Regions from separate parts of the Homo sapiens genome. Here region 2 is linked to region 1. The links come from fine-mapping of genetic effects on gene expression. A gene starts in region 1. The other region holds a variant in brackets. All regions are shown on one strand. Distances are between the middles of the regions. Region 1 holds the start of FAM187A (family with sequence similarity 187 member A). Region 2 overlaps EFTUD2 (elongation factor Tu GTP binding domain containing 2).

Region 1 (2,904 bases):
CGAGTCTCAGGATCTGAGAACGAGGCTGGGTAGTGCCCATGAGATGTCACACCCAGCCGGAAGCCAGCAACTAGCACACCCTGCCTCCAGCAATAGTAGATGCCCCGGTCATCCAGCTGGGTGAAGCGGATGTGGAGCTGGTTGCCGTGGTCAATGAACACCCTCATGGACCTGTTGACACCCTTCAGGTACTGTGTGCGGTAGAGGTGCTGGCGGTCTTTGTCCCAGGCCACTGCATGCTCTGGCCGGGCCCCAGGACAGGAGATGATGAGTCCATGGCCCAGTCTCTGCTGGTGGAACTGAATGGGCACCTGGGGCACCCAGGGCCGGCTGCCCACTTTGGACACATAGTTAATGATGGCCAGCACGCCCTCCCGGATGGTCTTTGTCTTCTCACAGGGTACTAAGCAGCTCCGAACCAGCACCTCAGGCGTGTGGTCCCTGGCCTTGGTCCGCAGCTTCCTTGGCACAGCCCTTGAGCCACAAGACACCACATCGGGCACGGCCTTGAGGTAGCGTGGGGAGAGGTCTGGGCTCTGCAGGTAGCAGAGGCCGATGCGCCACTGCTCCCCACGCACTCCGCAGCGGTCACAGGGGGTCCATTCCCAGAAGGTGGTGAAGACATGGAGGTGCCCATAGTATTCATCTGCAAAGGGCTCCTGGCCCTTGTCCTGGAAAGTGGCCACCATTCCCTCACTGTTCTGGATGTCCACATCGTAGGCGTAAAAGTAGTCCCCCTTGCGGGTGCCGCAGAAGTACAGGCCTGAGTCCTCAGACTGAGCCCTGAAAACCAACAAGCTGAACATGCGGATGCTGAAGCGGGTCAGCATGTCGCTGCCCACACGTACCTGGGCTGCCTCCGTCAGCACCCGCCCATCAAAGTCCGTCAGCACTTTGGTGTGGCTGCTACCTAGGTGCTTTTGGTAGAACCAGACTACAGCTGGCACCTCTTCGGGTTTGCAGTGACAGGGAAGCTCAAAGCTCATGTCGGCCAGGTAGGCTGCATTTTCAAACATCAGGAAAGCAGGGCAGGGGGTCCTCTGAAAAATGTTTTCCTTCTCCACAATTTCAAAGGCCTGGAGCCCCCATGCCCACAGGAGCACAGTGGTGAGGGCCAGGTGCATACCTGAAGGAGGCAGGGGTCAGAGGGGCAGGGCAAAACCAGGGCATTAAAGGCTCATAGGGCTCCTAGAAAGCTCTGCTAAGCGGAAGCCTCTAGATGAGGAAAGGATTATGCAGCCAGGAAAAGCAGCAACAATCTGCAGAGGAAGCCGCCAAGTGCAAGGCAATTTATTCCCAGTGGATGTACAAGATGCCCTTCTAACATTCCAGACCTGATCTCAGGGTGGGGGGGGAAAGCCATTCTAGAACCTGGCCTTTACTCCCCTTTCTAGAACACTGGCGCTCACCCAAGAATGGGTCAAAGGAAACCGGAATGAGAAGGGCGGGCCGAGGTGCTCGGGCAGGGAGATCTCTGCCTCAGTGCTCCAGGCCCTGCCCTGCCAGCCTGGTGGAAAAGTCTTTCATCAACCTGGGGGATGAAGGAAACCCACCCTCCTGCATATCTGGCCATCCGGGAGGCTGGCTGGACCTGAGCTGATGGCTTGGGACTTTCCCAGGCCCAACCTGCACAAGAACTGAGTCTCTAGGGGAAAATTCAACACCTCAAATGATGTAGTATTTGATCATTTGTTGATTACATGTCCATTCATTGGTTTGGGGCTATAAACATTCTTGTTAAGAGCTGTGGAGATCAGTGTTTGTTTACCATAAAGATTTTGCTTTTTCCCTTTTATGAGTGGAGGCTGTAACTGGTATAGCCAGCATTTGGTTGGGCACACACTCATCTCTCAAGGCCAGTGGGCTAGAGGCTTGGCAGACTCTAAGGGTGGGAAACAAAACCGCTCTCAACTTCCTGAGCTCTTGACTGTCCATGGATACACACAGTTCAAAACAGCGAGACACTGAGGGACTGGAGAAGTGGGGAAGACTTGATTCCTGTTTTTGCTCTGAAAATTCCAAGTTGAGAAGGGAACCAGGTGTGGGTTTCTTATTATGGTCCTGCAGAACCCCCAAGACAACAACCAAAAAACTGCCTCCAGTGACCACTGGGACCTCTGAGGGTAGCTTGCCGCATCAGTCAACCTGGTACAGCTCCAGCAGCTCCTGCAGGAGCCTCTCCTCCTCCTGGAGCCCACCAGACTGCTCCTCCAGACCCTGCTCCTCCCAGCTGAGCCCCTCCTTCACGGATCTGGGGTTGCCCATGGCTTGCAGCTTCTGAAACAAGCCCTTGCAGCTCTCTCTCTCTGCCCGGCTCAGCAGGCTTAGGTTCAGGGTGAAGCGCCCAGTGCTCGCCAGGCTGCATAGGATCCCCAGCACCGCTGCCCGGTCAGCCGGCCCCACGTGATCAGCCAGTGCCACCAGCAGCTCCCCAAGAAGTCCAAATCCCACATCTGTCTGGAAGAGGCAGCCGAGCCTTGGACCCCCAAGCTGCAGTAGAGCCTGGTAGCGCTCTGGCCCACTTGGCAAGTGTCGTCGCCAATCACGATAGAAGTCAGCAGACGTCTCGGGCTGGAGGGGGGCTTTCTCCTGGACCACAAAGGAAGGAAAGGGAGTCAGGAGCTCTTCCAGCTGTTCTGCAACAGTGACAGGGAGGGGAGCCTGTAGCTCTTCATCTTACTGTCTTCATCTCACTACTGTCTGAGCACTGGGAAAGCTGTGGTCCTTGGCGGCCTCATTTTCAGATGAGGAAACTGGGGATGAAACAGGGAGGGCCCCAAGGAATCCACGCCATGATTTGAGATTCTCATTTATACTGGAATTTTCCTACTCATGAATGGAGACATAGCTCTGGTCTTCAAGAGTAAGTCAGGGTTTACTGTAAGTCGGGTGGATGGGTTGATT
Region 2 (2,904 bases), 27 kb after region 1:
AGTTTTGTCATCTATTGATGATTCTTGGCTTGTTCCTACAATAGTTGCAAATAGTGAGTCTTCTAACTCTTCTTATTCCTTCTGTTTTGTTTTGGTTTTGAGATGGAGTCTTGCTCTGTTGCCCAGGCTGGAGTGAAGTGGTGCGATCTCAGTTTACTGCAACCTCTGCCTTTTGGGTTCAAGCAATTCTCCTGTCTCAGCCTCCCAAATAGCTGAGATTACAGGTGCACGCCACCACACCTGGATAATTTTTGTATTTTTAGTAGAGACAGGGTTTCATTCACCATGTTGGCCAGGCTGGTCTCGAACTCCTGACCTCAAGTGATCTGCCCACCTAGGCCTCCCAAAGTGTGGAGATTACAGGCGTGAGCCACCGCTTCCAGCCATTGTTGTTTGTTGTTGTTGTTGTTGTTGTTGTTTTGTTTTTTTGAGATGGAGTCTTGCTCTTCCGCCCAGGCTGGAGTGCAGTGGCGCAATCTTGGCTCACTGCAACCTCTGCCTCCCAGGTTCAAGTGATTCTCCTGCCTCAGCCTCCCAGGCAGCTGGGACTACAGGCGCCTGCCACCACACCTGGCTAATTTTTGAATTTTTTGTAGAAATGGGGTTTCACCATGTCGGTCAGGCTGGTCTTGAACTCCTGACCTCAAGTAGTCCACCTGCCTCGGCCTCCCAAAGTGCTGGGATTACAGGCATGAGCCACTGCGCCTGGCCTATTGGTTGGAATTATGTTGTAAAGAAGTGCTTTTGTTTCTCCCCCATTTGCTTATTATCACTGTGGATATTTGGGTTTGCATTTTATTCAGTGAGTTATAATCTGTTACTGTCCTTATGGATTCCGGTGCTCTAGTGCTCTTGTCCCAGATTTGGCTACTGAGAGCTCCTTCAGGCTGATTCCATCATCTTTTTCACGCCTCATCGTTTTTTGAGCACTTCCTTACTTTCAAGCACAAAAAGATGTTCTAGACGTTATCTTTCCTTGTCCCAATCCTGGACTCAGCCATTTCTTCAAGGAGCTCTGGCTTTTTTTTTTTCCTTCAAAGAGATGGCATCTTGCCCTCTGGCCCAGGCTGGAGTGCAATGGTACAATTATACCTCACAGCAGCCTCGAGCTCCTGGGCTCAAGTGATTCACTCACTTCAGCCTCCCAAATAGCTGGGACTACAGGTATGTGCCAACATGCCCAGCTTATTTTTAAATATTTTTTTGAGAGATGGGGTCTCGCTCTGTTGCCGGGGATGGTCTTGAACTTCTGGCTTCAAGCAATCCTCCTGCCTTGGCCTCCCCAAAATGCTGGGATTACAGGTGTGAGTGACTGCACCTAGCCTAGCAGCTCTGGCTCATAGTGGGGAGTAGTTTTTTTTTTTTTTTTTTTTTTTTTTGAGACGGAGTCTCACTCTGTCGCCCAGCAGGCTGGAGTGCAGTGGTGCGATCTTGGCTCACTGCAAGCTCTGCCTCCCGGGTTCACGCCATTCTCCTGCCTCAGCCTCCCAAGTAGCTGGGACTACAGGTGCCTGCCACCACGCCCAGCTCATCTTTTTGTATTTTTAGTCGAGACAGGGTTTCACCGTGTTAGCCAGGATGGTCT[C/T]GATCTCCTGACCTCGTGATTCGCCCACCTCAGCCTCCCAAAGTGCTGGAATTACAGGCATGAGCCACTGTGCCCGGCCAGTGGGGATTAGTATTTAGAAACAAAGGTTTGGATGTGCTCATTGCTACTGGGGTACATTGCTTCTAGGCCCTCTCACTGAGCACAGCTAGGTTATATACACTCATACATATCTATAACTATTTCTACACACATATATTAAAAATCATGCATTAATCCTAATACCCCCAATTCCATTTCAGCACCACTGGCTCTTCCCAGCCTTCTTAGTTCCTTCTTTAGCACTGAGAAACCTGGCTCCCAACATCATTGTTCATGGGTTTATTCATTTCTCAATCCTGCAAGGTGCCCTCTTAAAGTTCCTGTGTCTATCTTCGGGCAGGATGCTCTCTGCTTCCACCCAGTAATATTTCCCGAGGTCTTTTTTTCTCCCCAGGCTTCATGGTTTGAAATAGTGCCTTCTTTGGTTCTGCTTTGAACTTTCTGCCCTCCTTGTTCTTCTTACCACCTTCTGAGCCTTGTTTTTCTCAGGTGATGCTGAACACAGAGCGGCTGATCAAGCATGCGGTGCAGGAGAGGCTGGCAGTCACTGTGTGCATCAACAAGATTGACCGGCTGATCCTGGAGCTGAAGCTGCCTCCAACTGATGCTTATTACAAGCTGCGCCACATTGTGGATGAGGTCAATGGATTAATAAGGTAGAAAACCCCTGGGAGTGGATTTCCTGTCCTCGGAGGCTCTGGGTTTTAACCCTGAATACCTCTGGGAACAACTGTGATTTATTTCTAAGCGTGTGTTGATGAGTTTGTTGGGCAAAACTAGAGGCACATCCTGGGACTCTGCAGGGGTTGACTTCATACTTTAACACATCTTCATTTTACTATTATGATCAGTACTTGGGCTGTATTAATTTCTTCTCTTTTTAGAGATAGGATCTCTGTTACCCAAGCTAGAGTGCAGTGTCACAATCACAGCTCACTGCAGCCTCGAACTTCTGGGCTCAAGCAATCCTCCCACCTCAGTCTCCTGATAGCTGGGACCACAGGCATGTGCCACCATACCTGGCTATATATTTTTTAAATTAATTAATTTATTTTTTTTTGAGACGGAGTCTCGCTCTGTCGCCCAGGCTGGAGTGCAGTGGCATGATCTCGGCTCACTGCAAGCTCCGCCTCCCGGGTTCATGCCATTCTCCTGCCTCAGCCTCTCAAGTAGCCGGGACTACAGGCACCCGTCACCACGCCCGGCTAATTTTTTGTATTTTTAGTAGAGACAGGGTTTCACTGTGTTAGCCAGGTTGG

Evidence for each region. PIP is the estimated chance that this variant, and not a neighbour inherited with it, causes the effect.
Region 2: its variant is the best candidate, but not a certain one, in a credible set for the expression of FAM187A in whole blood (TOPMed, PIP 0.85).

Annotation. Positions count from the first base shown.
Region 1 is chr17:44,902,050-44,904,953 of GRCh38, reverse strand. FAM187A (family with sequence similarity 187 member A) reads right to left here and starts at 1,521. Exons shown (of 1, transcript NM_001258400.2): 1 at 1-1,521. The coding sequence starts at 1,124. DNAAF19 (dynein axonemal assembly factor 19) reads right to left here. Exons shown (of 4, transcript NM_213607.3): 4 at 1-2,589. The coding sequence ends at 2,137. It overlaps GFAP (glial fibrillary acidic protein), which reads left to right. Exons shown (of 9, transcript NM_002055.5): 9 at 1-1,795.
Region 2 is chr17:44,875,331-44,878,234 of GRCh38, reverse strand. It overlaps EFTUD2 (elongation factor Tu GTP binding domain containing 2), which reads left to right. Exons shown (of 28, transcript NM_004247.4): 10 at 2,135-2,301. Among named protein-coding and RNA genes, the nearest start is that of EFTUD2, 23 kb to the left of the region's middle. The variant C/T (reference allele first, on the strand shown) is at 1,586.